4 linked regions of the Homo sapiens genome follow. The protein of the gene in region 3 purifies or fractionates together with the protein of the main gene of each other region. This does not show direct contact. Each region holds a gene or a part of one and is shown on either strand. Other genes may lie near its edges.

The links. Proteins that work in one complex are often made in the same cells at the same time.
Region 1: the proteins of IVNS1ABP (region 3) and ATXN2 purify together in Homo sapiens (affinity purification with western blotting, with the first as the bait; one study listed by BioGRID). This does not show direct contact.
Region 2: the proteins of IVNS1ABP (region 3) and ELAVL1 purify together in Homo sapiens (affinity purification with mass spectrometry, with the first as the bait; one large-scale study listed by BioGRID). This does not show direct contact.
Region 4: the proteins of IVNS1ABP (region 3) and LRPPRC purify together in Homo sapiens (affinity purification with mass spectrometry, with the first as the bait; one large-scale study listed by BioGRID). This does not show direct contact.

The regions. Positions count from the first base shown.
Region 1 is NC_000012.12:111,512,316-111,515,815, reverse strand, and holds part of ATXN2 (ataxin-2), read left to right. Parts: intron 1-2,276; coding exon 2,277-2,459; intron 2,460-3,500. UniProt on the Homo sapiens protein: Involved in EGFR trafficking, acting as negative regulator of endocytic EGFR internalization at the plasma membrane.
Region 2 is NC_000019.10:7,964,142-7,967,641, reverse strand, and holds part of ELAVL1 (ELAV-like protein 1), read left to right. Parts: coding exon 1-77; intron 78-3,500. UniProt on the Homo sapiens protein: RNA-binding protein that binds to the 3'-UTR region of mRNAs and increases their stability.
Region 3 is NC_000001.11:185,300,244-185,303,743, forward strand, and holds part of IVNS1ABP (influenza virus NS1A-binding protein), read right to left. Parts: intron 1,321-3,500; coding exon 1,191-1,320; intron 954-1,190; coding exon 729-953; intron 316-728; coding exon 194-315; intron 101-193; coding exon 1-100. UniProt on the Homo sapiens protein: Involved in many cell functions, including pre-mRNA splicing, the aryl hydrocarbon receptor (AHR) pathway, F-actin organization and protein ubiquitination.
Region 4 is NC_000002.12:43,947,490-43,950,989, reverse strand, and holds part of LRPPRC (leucine-rich PPR motif-containing protein, mitochondrial precursor), read left to right. Parts: intron 1-389; coding exon 390-417; intron 418-1,330; coding exon 1,331-1,388; intron 1,389-2,471; coding exon 2,472-2,578; intron 2,579-2,790; coding exon 2,791-2,868; intron 2,869-3,214; coding exon 3,215-3,259; intron 3,260-3,500. UniProt on the Homo sapiens protein: May play a role in RNA metabolism in both nuclei and mitochondria. In the nucleus binds to HNRPA1-associated poly(A) mRNAs and is part of nmRNP complexes at late stages of mRNA maturation which are possibly associated with nuclear mRNA export.

The sequences.
Region 1 (3,500 bases), on a different chromosome or scaffold from region 3:
AGTCTTGAACTTAGGTTCATTTTACAGCTCTTTGGCCAAGGTCCTAGTGAACCTTCCTATTGGCCATAAGCAGGGATGGTGTTTTCTGGGTCTTTTTTGAGAGCGACAGCCCATGTAGCTGACTTTGCGTGTCTGCCCTTAGATTAAAGTAGTTGATTTTTAGAATGCCAGAAGAATTCTAAATTTAACTGAGTAATTTTTTTAAAGTTAGCTTTGCAATCTTACATAGTGAAAGGCTGCTTTAATCTGGAAGAAGTCCTTGATCTGAGATAAAATTGATAAAAACGACATATGAATTTGAATATTTAGCTATTTCTTTCCTCGTCAAAAATAAGAATAAAATCTTGTAATTCTTATTCAGTATTTGGCGCTAAATCCATCATTGCCACATATCAAATACAGGGATATGTTGTAGAAAGGTAACATTCTAATTTAAATGCCACCCATATATTAAAAACCTGTTTTCTGAATCATAATGTCCTTTTGATACTAGTTCTGAATATTTGTGTTAAAATTTTAATCTGATTTGTTCATTAAAATTAGTTAATATTGCTTATGTTGGGACTAATAAAGTTTTCCGCACAAAATGTGTTTCTCCTGCTTCCCTGGAGAAAACTGTATTGGCTACTTTTAAATAAATTGTTACCATCTAAGCAGGCAGGTCATATGACTTTGACTGAAGCATCTAACCTTGAAGAGCAAGTTCCACTGATTTTCAAGGTGACTTCTTTGCTCAAAAGGGCCTTAATAGTGGTCACTAAATGCAAAATTCTGTTGATATTTTTCTTGTAGTCCATCATTTGAGTAAGCGATGTTTATTTAATGAGAATATATTAAATAAAACATGATCATTAATGACTGTGAACATCTTTATTACATTAAGATTTAAGGACTGCTCATGTATTAACTTCACACAGAAATATACTTTCTGTGTCATTCAGAGATGTTGAATATTTCCATTTGAAAATTATAGTGTATAACATTAGCATTCTTCTAAAGATCATGTTCGTGTTTAAATTCCTGTTGGAAGCCAGGCATGGTGGCTAACGCCTGTAATCTCAGCACTTTGGGAGGCTGAGGCAGGTGGATCACTTGAGGTCAGGAGTTTGAGACCAGCCTGGCCAACATGGTGAAACCTCGTCTCTACTAAAAATACCCAGCTACTTGGGAGGCTGAGGCAGGAGAATCACTTGAACCTGGGAGGCAGAGGTTGCAGTGAGTTGAGATCGTACCACTGCACTCCAGCCTGGGCGACAGAGACAGACTCTGTCTTATAAAAATAAAAATAAAATAATAATTCTATTGGCAACATATATTAATTTGAAGTTCTAAAGAGTTTGGCAGCCGGGTGAGAGAGTGAGGAGATTTGGCTTTGACATTAGGGAAGTTTTCGCTTGGTGTTAACACCAGTAGGCTTCTCTGATGAGGGCCATTCTGTCCACTCTTTTACCTGATAGATTGGTCTAATGCACAGTAGACTGATTTAGAAAGAGTAGTCACTAGTGGCATGGCAGAATCAATAATGTAGAATTTTGACAATTCATATAGTGCTGATTTCTCCCCCAAATGTCAGTTATTTTGGTCATCTATTAATAGACTAATACAAGTCATCCCTTTAATAGAATTTTCAGCTCACAGCCTGCTAAGCCTAAGAAACTGCTTACAGGTTACTGCTTACTGTTTTAAGCCGAGTTTTAAAATTGATGATCATGATAGAAGAGATAAATAAACTAAAATTTTAGAGAAATTTAAGAAGGGTATGTACATATGTTTTAGTGGTATCGGGGTGTATAGGGATTAATAGTCTTCTGTTTAAATTTTTTTTTTCTAATTTTAGAAGTAATGTAGAAAATTCGGGTCAGGGAAAGGTAAAATATATGGAAAGTTAAAAATATTTTATCATGTAGTCATAATTTCTAGTAACATATTTCTTTACAAATAAGACATAGTTGAAACAGATTGCTACAGTTCTTTTAAGAGTTGACATCTTATTGTTGATTTCTTACCACCAACTTCATCCCTCCCTTTCTTTAAAAATAAAGGGAAATAATAAAATTTATTTATAAAACTTTGTGGCATTCCACAAAATAATTCTGAAAGAATTAGTATGGCCAAAAAAATATGTATGGTGTTTTTTTTTTTTCTATTTTTAACCAAGGAAAAACTGTAGAGTGAGTGAGTGTGTGTGCATGTGTGTGTGAATGGGTGTATTTAGCAGAAAAGTAGTACTGATGAATATCATGGAATTTATGTGATGTTCACTGTTTCTTCCTTAGGGCCTCCAAGGATGTCCCCAAAGGCCCAGCGACATCCTCGAAATCACAGAGTTTCTGCTGGGAGGGGTTCCATATCCAGTGGCCTAGAATTTGTATCCCACAACCCACCCAGTGAAGCAGCTACTCCTCCAGTAGCAAGGACCAGTCCCTCGGGGGGAACGTGGTCATCAGTGGTCAGTGGGGGTAGGTAACACTTGGGCATAATGATGGTACTCATTTTGTCATTACACTAGATATAAAGAGGGCTGAGCTACAACTCTGTTTGAGGAAGTGTAAGTATGTATATGTTAAAAATAGTAGAATCACCAGGAATTGGGAAACCCATATTTTTATTCTGGGCTCTACCACTTATTCATCATATATTAAAGCAAGTCAGACACTCATTCTGAAGTTGAGATTTCGCAGTGAGTAAAGTGTTAATAATTCTTGCCTAGTCTACATTATGGGATTGTGATGAGATTCCTATAAGGTTCATAAATACAGATATATTGTAAAACTATAAAGTTTTGTAAAGTACCTCTCTAATATGAGGCAAACACAGTATGTAACACTATTTGGAGGGACCGTATTTCCTTATCTTTTTAGCAGCTTTGTTTATCAGTACATTCTATAAACATTTATTTTTGGCTTACATTGTAGTGTGTTTCTATAGCATCTGTATATGGCACTAATTCCCAACTATATTTCCATAATAAGGAATATCAAATACAAATAAAGGGTCCAAGTTTTATTTGTGATTAGCATAAGGAATATGCTGACAGCAGCTATAAAAGTATAAAAATTAGGCTGGGTGTGGTGGCTCACGCCTGTAATCCCAGCACTTTGGGAGGCTGAGGTGGGCGGATCACAAGGTCAGGAGATCGAGACCATCCTGGCTAACACGGTGAAACCCCGTCCCTACTAAAAGTACAAAAAAAATTAGCCGGGCATGGTGGCGGGTGCCTGTAGTCCCAGCTACTTGGGAGGCTGAGGCAGGAGAATGGCATGAACTCGGGAAGCGGAGCTTGCAGTTAGCTGAGATCACGCCATTGCACTCCAGCATGGGCAACAGAGCAAGACTCTGTCTCAAAAAAAAAAAAAAAAAAAAAGTTTAAAAACTAGACGTTGACATGATTTTACAATAAGGCTGACTGCTTTTGCTACTTTGCCAATCAGTCCTTAGTGCTTTGTTCCCATAACTGTGGTAAGCAAGAGCTTACAAAGAATACTTAAAACAAACAAACA
Region 2 (3,500 bases), on a different chromosome or scaffold from region 3:
GCACTCCTCTCGCAGCTGTACCACTCGCCAGCGCGACGGTTCGGAGGCCCCGTTCACCACCAGGCGCAGAGATTCAGGTGGGTCGGGAGGGTGCGCGCTCCTGAAAGCCATACTTAGCCCCGCTGGCAGGCGACGGCACAGCCACAGAATAGAAACCACGGGGATGATAGACTGATCCCGTCAGAGAGCGCGTTTCAGAATCATTCTGCAGCTCCACACCACAACCTCCATCAGAAAGGTGTCTGTAGGAAAGCCGTTTACTTCCGATTGGGCGTTGTCTTTCATGGGAATCAAAACAGTGACTCCAGGCTGGACACAGTGACTTATCCCTGTAATCCTAGCACCTTGGGTGGCTGAGAGAGGAAGATCGATTGAGCCCAGGAGTTCAAGACCAACCTGGGCAATATTGCGAGACCCCATCTCTACAAAAAATACAAAGCTGGCCAGGCATGGCGGTGCGCTCCTGTAGTTGCAGCAACTCAGGAAGCTGAGGTGGGAGGATTGCTTGAGCCCAGGAGGTTGAGGCTGCAGTGAGTTGTGATCATACCACTGCACTCCAGCCTGGGCCACAGGGCCAGAACCTGTCTTTTTTTGTTTTTATTAAAAAAAAAAAAAAGACAGCACCAGTCCCCACCAGTTGCTGTGAGCGTGAGCACTTAGAGCTTCAGCACGCAGTTCCTAGTAACAGCAGAACGGAGCCGCGAGCTTTAAAGATGGTTTCATGCCCAGTGTGGGGGAGCACACACCTGTAATCTCAGCTCTCAGGAGGCCGAGTTAGGAGGATTACTTGAAGCCCCGAGTTTGAGCAGCCTGGGCAACAAAGTGAGACCCCTGTTCCTACAAAAAGTAATGAAAAAAACTGGGCATGGTGATGCTGGCCTTTAGTCCCAGCTACTCAGGAGGCCATGGTGGGAGGATCGCTTGAACCCAGGAGGTGGAGGCTGCAGTGAACTATGATTGCACCACTGCACTGCAGCCTGGGTGATAGAGTGAGACCCTTTCTCTAAAAAATAAATGAATAATGAACGTCTCATATCTGTGGGAGAAAAGATGCTGCCTTAGGTATACTCGGGTGAGAGTAGATCTTCCAGCATTCTTAGACATTTGATCAGCAGCCCTAAGGCAAACCTTTTTCAAACACCTGCCTCGTGGAGTCATTTGTATTGGTGAATGTTGTATGTATGCATTCTGTTTATAAGCCCTGTCCTAGAGGGGAGGAGTTTTCCCGGATTCCTTAGTCTTTCCATCCTGAAAATGGTTCTGGCTGCCAGGATGAAGTGGGATAGAGGCGATGAGAGTCAGGGCCTTGGACTCCAGGATGTGGTGTGCTGTCGCCTCAGAAACAGCAGAGGTCTCAGTGTCAGGGCTGTTTTGTTTTTGTCAAAACCTCAAGGAGTGGCATCGAGGGCTTATCTCAGGTATGACAAGGATAGATTTCCCTTTTTTTTTTAATTTTTAATGTTTTTATTTTTTGTTGAGATGGGGTCTCACTGTGTTGCCCAGGCTGGTCTTAAACTCCTAGCCTCAAGTGATCCTCCTACCTCAGCCTCCCAACGTACTGGGATTATAGGCGTGAGCCCGGCCCCATCGTTGTTTTAACAGTGAAGCTGGGTGGGCGCTGCCCAGTGCCACACATGCTGCTGTGAGAGGTGTTATTCTCATGGCTGAGTTACCCAGCATTCTCAGCCTGGCTCAAATTCCAAAGCTGGCCTGCCTTCCTTGAGGTTTCTGGCTTGAAGACAAGGCTGGGGAAGCTTCTCTGGACGGAATGGAGCTGAATTTTAAAATCCAGCTCTAGAAATCCCATCATACAGTCGGTCCTGCTCTTGATGGGGCGGGCTATATGGGCGGTGGGGTTGGGTGAACTGCTCCTTAGCCTGGAAGGAAAACAGGGAAGGTTGGAGGAGACATGGGACTCTGGTCCCAGTAATGAGGACAAGAAAAGAAAGGGGAAACCGGAGAAGTGGACATTTCTGGTCGAGCAGGAAAAGTGAGTGGCAGGGCAACCACTAAGACAAAGTGATGGAAGGAAGTGGGGAGGGCGGGAGAGTCTGGAGGGAAAGATTCGCTCAGGAGGCTGAGAGAAGAGGAGGAAGAAAGACCCAGACTGCAGTGAGTTTGCAGTCAGTCCCTATCACGTCCAGAAAAGCCCAGAGATAAGGGATGGAAAAGAATTGGGTTGGAGGAAGAGAGGAGAAGATTTATGACTGTCAAGACCAGAGAAATCAGCAGGAGAAAAACTACCAACAAGAGTAATTCCTAAGAAGGCCGGGCGCATTGACTCACGCCTGTAATCCCAACGCTTTGGGAGGCCAAAGCAGGAGGATCACTTGAGCCCAGGAATTTGAGACCAGCCTGGACAACATAGACCCTTTCTTCTTAGTCTTTCCATCCTGAAAATGGTTTTACAAAAAATGTAAAAATTAGCCAGCATGGTGGCACACACCTGTGGTCCAGCTGCTCAGGAGGCAGGAGGATCACTTGAGCCTAAGAGTTTGAGACCATACTGGACAACATAGTGAGACCCTCTCTCAAAAATAAAGAAAATCACCGTTGGGCTAGTGAGCTGCCCCATGGCAGCTGGTGTCCTCTCGTGTCTGTCGAGAGGGTGAATCTGTTTAACAGCGCTTGAAGGCACTCGTTTACCCCGGCTGGGGCCTGCAGGGCTGCGCTTGGCTGATAGGGCCATAGCCTGAAGCCCAGTTTTATTTTGGAGCAGGTAATGCTTCTCTGCATGCATCACGCAGCTTCACAGATGCCGGCTTCACAAATGTATGCTACTCAGATATTCCCAAACTGACCCTCAGACCTTTACTTTTTTAATGTGAGAAAGTTCCAGAGGGAAACATAGCTTTAGGAACTGTTTTGTCATATACCTTAATCCTTATTACAGCATCTGTACATTTTCAGAAGGCTTTATTTTATTTTAGTTTAGTTTAGTTTTTGTTTTCTGAGGTTTTTGTTTTTTTCCTAGAGATGGGGTCTCTCTGTGTTGCCCAGGCTGGTCTCAAACTCCTGGCCTCAAGTGATCCTCCCACCTTGGCCTCTCAAAGTCCTGGGATTCCGTGCTTGAGCCACCATGCCTGGCCCAGAAAGGCTTATTTTTTATGTAAATAAAAGTATCACTGTGGAAAGAGCCCCACGTGTGTGGTCAAGTTTGGTGAGCCTGCCGTTGCTGGTGTCCCAGGGCCCTTCCCTGTCCCTTGAGTTCTCAGTCCTCAGTGGTTTGGCCCCTGACCCTCAGGGGATGTTGAGCTCTAGCCACAGAGGGTTGGTTGCCTGGTGCTTGGGAAGGAATTCTTGTGCCCTACAAGTGGCCCTGGCAAAGGCGTGCTCTAACCAGAGACCACTGGGCTGTCAACGCTTGGGGGCGGGTCATGATAAGGGGAAGGTGCAAAATTTGGAAAAAGGAGTTCAGCCCCTGCACGTACCCCACAGTACGAGGAGAGTTTCCTCCAGGGAGAACTGAGGCTGTCAGAGGCCTGCAGAGCATTTCTACC
Region 3 (3,500 bases):
CTGGAACAGGAATCCAGTCATCTATGTTTGAATCATACATCTCTCCACAACTCAGGTCATCTGAGTGGCCATTTGATCCACCTACCACATAGAGCTGGCCCTATGCCAAAAGTGAGAGATGAGAATTTCTAACATCCTGAAGTTACGAGGAAAAAGCTAAATAGGGGTTGCTCCTGCAACATAATGCGCTTACCATGAGTACAGCCATTTGAAATCGGGCTCTTGGTGTTCTCATGGGAGCAAGAAAGGACCAGTGATCTGTATGTGGATTATAGCATTCGACTGTTCGAAGACATTCCTCTCTGTTATAGCCACCTGGTAAAAAATAAAACCATAAAGATTTATGTTTAAAATATTAAACTGGACCACGGTTTCCAGTCCTGTAAGTTTAAGAAATCTGCACAATGAGAAAAAGTATTAAAACTTTTTAAGGATGCCTTAGTTGATCTTTTAACTAAGTGCTTGTAATAGCTGAAAAATCGCATTATCAGTACAAATAAACTGCTTAGTCTTGGCTTGAATATTAGAAAAATTTAGCCATGACATAATTTTTTTAAAAATTAGATACAGACATTGAACTGAAGGTTAGCCATATTCAATAGTATTGTTATTTCCCTATCTTATTGGATTGCCGTGAAAGATGGCATATTAAACCCTCTCTTTGAAAGTTTGCATGTCACAAAAATGCCCATCTACATGCTTAGCCAGTTGAATGCTTCTGTTCTTACCTGCAGCTATGAGTTTGCCATTCATCTCTGCTGTTCCCAGACCAGATCGTGCGTACTGCATAGGAGACATGGGCTTTTCGATTAGCTCATCTTGTTGCATCTCAAAGCTTAAACTCTTACTTAGTTTTGGAGTACTTGTTGGTGAGCTCTGTGGGCTGTTTCTCCCATGAAGAAAAATGACACAGAATATACCATCCAGCACAGCCAGGCACAAGTAAGTGTTATCTGTAAGCACAAGAGTTCCATGTTTAAGATGTAATTATTACTTTTGGTTTGTGTATATGATCCTGAATTGGACTCCAGTCTCCACATCCCAGACTGGAACAATCTGCTCTCGTTTTCCAAATTTAATTGCTTCTGAGTTTTTTCCTCGAGTAGTCAATTTAAGAGGTATTAAATTGGCAACACTCCTTCTTAAAAATAGGTAAGCTGAAAACAATCTGGCAAGTGTCATATACTTACTTGAAGTCTTTTCTGAAGCAACGATTTTCCACTCATGCTTAGGGCTTTGTACTGTAGCATTTGGAGAAGAGAGACATCCAGTTGAACTGCTACTTATCTGCTTATGGCCATTCTCACGTGGTGGCTTTTTCTGCAAAATCAAAAGGTAGCTACAGAAACCTAGCCAAAGACCACATCTGATGTACCTTTGTTCCTGAGCTATTCCACAACACTGAGTATCCTTCACCTATATATGACATTTATAGGACACTAACTTTAACTCAAGCCAACACTTTCCAAATGACACAAATTACTGGCATACTTCCATCTCCACTCAATGATGAGACAACTACGCCTACACAATTAGCCTAGGTAAGAAAAAGCTCAGTTTTAACAATTTGAAAAACATGTTGCAAATCAAGACCTCAGCAGAAGAAAAAACCAATCTATAATTATTTTTATATTAAGTATAGAATCTTTTAAAAGAATGCTATAAATTTAAAATAGTGTGAATTAACAGAGAATACATTTAACCCACTATTTTCATGAAATTGTCAAACCTAACTAAATCATATGTACAGGTATCCTTCATACAATGCCAGCAAAACGTAAGCAGATATAGATTCATCCAGTTTCTCTGAAAGTACTTGACAGGAAAAAAGTGGCAATTACAAGAAACACTTAAAGAATATTTCTTTAGGATTACCTTATAGGTATTATAGAGTGGTTTTCTAGACAAAATTACATCAAAACACAAGAAAATAGTAATCAGAAATGAAACATTACTAAAAACAACCAAATATTCACAAAAGTAGAATATACAGGAATACTAAAGAGGGAGAAATGAACAAAGCTGCCAATTTCCAAATGATTGTAAGAGAACTACTTTACACATGTGTTCTCATGTATGAGTTTTCCTTGATGGCTTCCTTCCAATTACTTTAGCCTTTGCCACTTCCAAAGGATATGATCATATGGAATTGGAAGAGTAAAGACTACTCTGAGAGGAACTGCCAAATGAACAGGTAGCAACTTCAGCACCTGGCCTAGTTTGCTCATCCCACTTGTGCTGGTCCAGATGGCCAGAACACATGGATAGGTAAAATTTCTAATGGAAATTTCTGTTGCTAGTGGAAGCAAAAAGCCATATAACAAGTAATTGAGAAAAAGATTTTGCTAGCTACTTGAAGCTATTAAGAAAAAGCTATATCAAAAGTTAGGCCTGAGTGTGGTTACAACATACGTAGGCTATTTTGAGAAAAGGCAGGGAATGTATCATTATCAATGGTTATGATTAAATTCCACTTAGATGTTTACTATGTACCTAGGTATTACTAGGTACTTTATTTACATCATCTCTTTTAGTCCAGTGAGGGTGATATTATCTACCCATTTTATAGATAAAAATATTGAAACTCAAGAAGATATGCATTGCCCAAGGCAATACAACTAAAATAAAGATTAGGAATTATGAAGATAAACCCCATCCTTTTTATACTATGACAAGTTATGTCATACTATAAAACAGATTTACACTATGACAGGCTGTTTTCCACTGTTACTAAAGTTGTGAATGCATCTTTCATATCACTTTTATACTATGAATATTAAGAATAAAAAATAAGGTTAGACTTATCTAACCTTATCTATTATTATGAATTACAAGGTACATAAAACCTCATCCCAACCTATGGGAAGAAGGGATCCAAATATCACAAATGGATGATGCTTACATTGAGGCTGTACTGAAGTAAAAAAACTGTTCTAATGTACAAACTATAATTAAGAGAAAATGACTGTGAAAGAGAAAGGCCCAAAAGCAATGCCTAATAACAAGCCTAATATAGAAATGCTGATTAAATCCTTTATATGTAAAGAATATATCCCTAAACCTTATTTTACATGACCTCCCAGAGAACTTGACAGTGTTTAGTCCTCCTTCAAACTTTCTTCTCCTACCTTAGGTAGCTTTTACAACATGATTAGATTCTTATTGTCCTCTGACTTTTCTAATGGCTTCTTCTCAACCTCCTTTTTCTATTCCTGAAGTCTAACATGTGTCCCTCGCATCCTCTTCATGATCTCTATTCATGGCATCACATTCTAATGAGTCACACATGTCAGAATCCCACTTATTCTCAAATTCTTTCTTTTCCCTAATCTTGCTAAGCAATCACTAAGGCCTGCTAAGTCAACCTTTGTAAATATAAATGTCTATTTATATATAGACATAAATAAAAAATCTATCCTTTCTCCTTCATGCCCCTAGATTAATCCCTCATCATTTTTTTAAAACCTGAACTACTGCTGGCAATAGTCTATAAACTGGGC
Region 4 (3,500 bases), on a different chromosome or scaffold from region 3:
CAGGCAATTCTCCTGCCTCAGCCTCCCGAGTAGCCTGGATTACAGGCATACACCAACACTCCCGGCTAATTTTTCTACTTCTAGTGGAGACGGGATTTCACCATGTTGGCCAGGCTGGTCTCAAACTCCTGACCTCAGGTGATCCACCTGCCTTGGCCTCCCAAAGTGCTGGGATTGCAGATGTGAGCCACCAGGCCTGGCCTATTTTGAATATTTGAGGTGGGTGAGTGTCAGCCTTTCTAAATTACCTTTGTCCTGAAAATTCATCCTGATACAGCAAACATTTATTTACTTATTAATTTTAATACTTTGATCTGTACATATTACAAGTATGCATATACTTGAAAATAAACCTGGGTTTATTTTCGATCCTTTGCTGCCCTCTGCAGGTCTATGAATATAAATCTTTGGAGCGAGGTAAGTCCCTCTAATATTGCAAATCATAAGGTGCTTTTAACGTTACAAGCCAATACCATAGGTTATGTAATAATTTTTATCATGAAACCTATATTTGGTTTTCTACTAAAATTTTGCTGGCAGAGTTAATGTTGAAAAATAATAGTTATGTGTGTCTTTTAGTGTTTGTGAATCCAATTGATAAGAATCCAATGGGAGGAGGGAGAGGATCAGGAAGAATAGCTAATGGATGCTGGGCTTAATACCTGGGTGATGGGATGATCTGTGCAGCCGACCACCATGGCACACGTTTACCGATGTAACAAACCTGCACATCCTGCACATGTACCCCTGAACTTAAAATAAAAGTTGGAAATTAAAAAAAAAAGAATCCATGAGAATAGACACTTTAATCTTTAGACCCCTTTTGTTTTAGTCTCATTAAGATGAATGGAAGTTGTTATTAAATATCTAAAAAATGTAAGTTATTTAGCAGTTCAGGATATTTTACTTTATATTTCAGTAAAACTTAATATAAAATGAGGAAACCAGTTCAGTGTCAACAAGACCAAAAGCAATATAATGAGGAATAATATTGGTCAATAATTCCTATAAGCTCTTTTCTATTTATAACAGTTCATTCAGAGTGATGTTTATATATCAATTTATAAATCAGTTTAGAGTCTTTCTGTGTGACATTTCACAAAACATTGCAGTTTTCCTTCAACATGGATTTGTTTTTGTTTTTAAAAGACAAACCTATTATTTAAAAACAAAACAATCTCCTTGGCGGGTGGGGGTGGTTTTGAATTACTGTGAAATAGAATAGTACCTTACTGGGGAGAGGTTTTATTATTTCAAGAATTCAATTTCAGATTGTGTTTGTTCTTGTTTGCTTCTCTTGCTGCAATGCACGAATTTTCTGTCTTACCAGATAACAGAATTGTTGTACAAGGATGGACGTTATTGCCAGGAGCCTCGAGGACCGACGGGTAGCGTTTCAATTTCGATGATTGTAACTTATCCACAAATCCATTTTTCTGTGTAATGATGGGTTAGGAGGATTACAGCAGTAAATACTTTATTTTTTAAAGTGGAATTTGAAAACATTTGGTTATAAATCTTTATATTGATTACAACATTTTGAGATCTAAAGTGTTTGATTTTGTTACAATTATTTTTTCTAAAGACAGGGTTGGGAGGCTTTTTCTTTTCAGATATTGGGGAAATGTTTCTTCTAACATCTATGGAAATAGGCTTAAAAATCAGTGATTCTTAGTATTTATGTGCTTTTAATGTTTTGCAGGTGTAGTTAATTTTAAACATAAAATGTAGCGAAGGTTCTTGTGGATTTCCGCTTAAATGTAATTTATTGCCCCAAATACATTGTTTTGACATTTAATGATTTTCATTTTTCATATAATGAAGCTAGACTATATAGTTTTCTGTAAGATGGTACCCCTCTTGAAAGTTTACATTTCTATCCTAGGTATTACTGTAACATGGCCCTATACATTTTATGCTTGAATGCAAAGGAAAATTACTGTTGTTACAAAACATCTTTGTTAATCTTGGTTTTTCATTGGCTAATAGGCAGCTCTCCACAGGATTACTGTATCTGCTTATTAAAATTGTTTAACTTTCTTTACTCAACATTTAACAATCCTTTCTAATTTTATGTGCTTCCCTAAATATTGTCCACAAAAAAAAAACAGTATAGAAATGTGTACAAGACATTTATTTATTCTTATTACGTGTGATTTGGACAGGAAAGGGGTAAGGCCTTGGGCAGGACCACTTCTGTCACAGAGTGGTGGAAAAAAAATAGATTGAAGTAAGATTCAGTACTGAAAAGCTGTCACTCGGTCTGAAAATAATTAATATTCCTTTCACTCACCAGTTAGATATGTGCTCCCAAACCACATAATCTCTATGCCTCAGTGATCATTGTTGCCATTTCAGAGCCTCTCATCAGGGTGACATCTCACACCAAAATGATTTCTTATAAATTAATCTTGATAACATGACAGTCTCGGTAATTTTAGTGGAATGCTTTCTCTTGTTTTTTTCCACAGAAGCTGTTGGCTATTTTCTTTATAACTTGATTGACAGCATGAGTGACTCAGAGGTACAGGCCAAGGAGGAGCATTTGAGACAATACTTCCATCAGCTGGAGAAGATGGTACCATTTCGTTTTTTGCTATATAATGCCTGTCCTGCCTGACATGTATCTATTAGATTTGAAATTGCTGCTTTTAAGTACAACCAGACCACTTCTCAATGACATGCAAGAGTTGGAGACTTAAATTATGTCTGAGATAATTTCTGTTAGACAAATTTCAGTTTGGTTGTCTAAAACTCAGGTTTTTTCCCCCCTCCCTTCCCTTCTCACAGAATGTAAAAATTCCTGAAAATATCTACAGAGGCATTCGTAATCTCCTGGAAAGCTACCATGTTCCTGAATTGATTAAGGTGTGTGTGAAATAGCAATCAACTGGATAAAATGCTTAACTTACATATAACAGCATGTTAAAATTTTATTTAAATATGATGCTTTTGGTCAGAAAAAAAATTTGTTTCAATGACAGCCATTAAAACGAAGCTTTTCATTGATTGTTCATAAATACTATTTATATATTCATAAATATATTTATAACGTTAATTACATTGATTAATAAAGTATGAAGAGAATGTCTAAAATTTTGGAAAGATGAAAAGTAGTAATATGAGGTGAGACTTACAAATTTGCTTTTGATGTTTGCTGATGTATTTTTACGTGTGTTTTCTAATTCTGGGCTAATTTAAATTTCAATTTTAGGATGCTCACTTGTTGGTTGAGAGTAAGAATTTAGACTTTCAAAAAGTAAGTAGGATTTTGACTAGATTCTACATGCTATAATACCCATATTTAATGAGTATTCTGGATTGTGTACTTATAAAACCAGTGATTCCTCACATTTTTATCATCTTGTATACCTCTAAGAAGTTGGTAAAACCTGTTCCCCACCTCAGAAAAATCAACATATCTAAGAAATTTGCATATAATCTCAGAAGGTTTGTAAATCCCTGGAGTCCATCCATGGATTCCCCAATTAATATCCCTG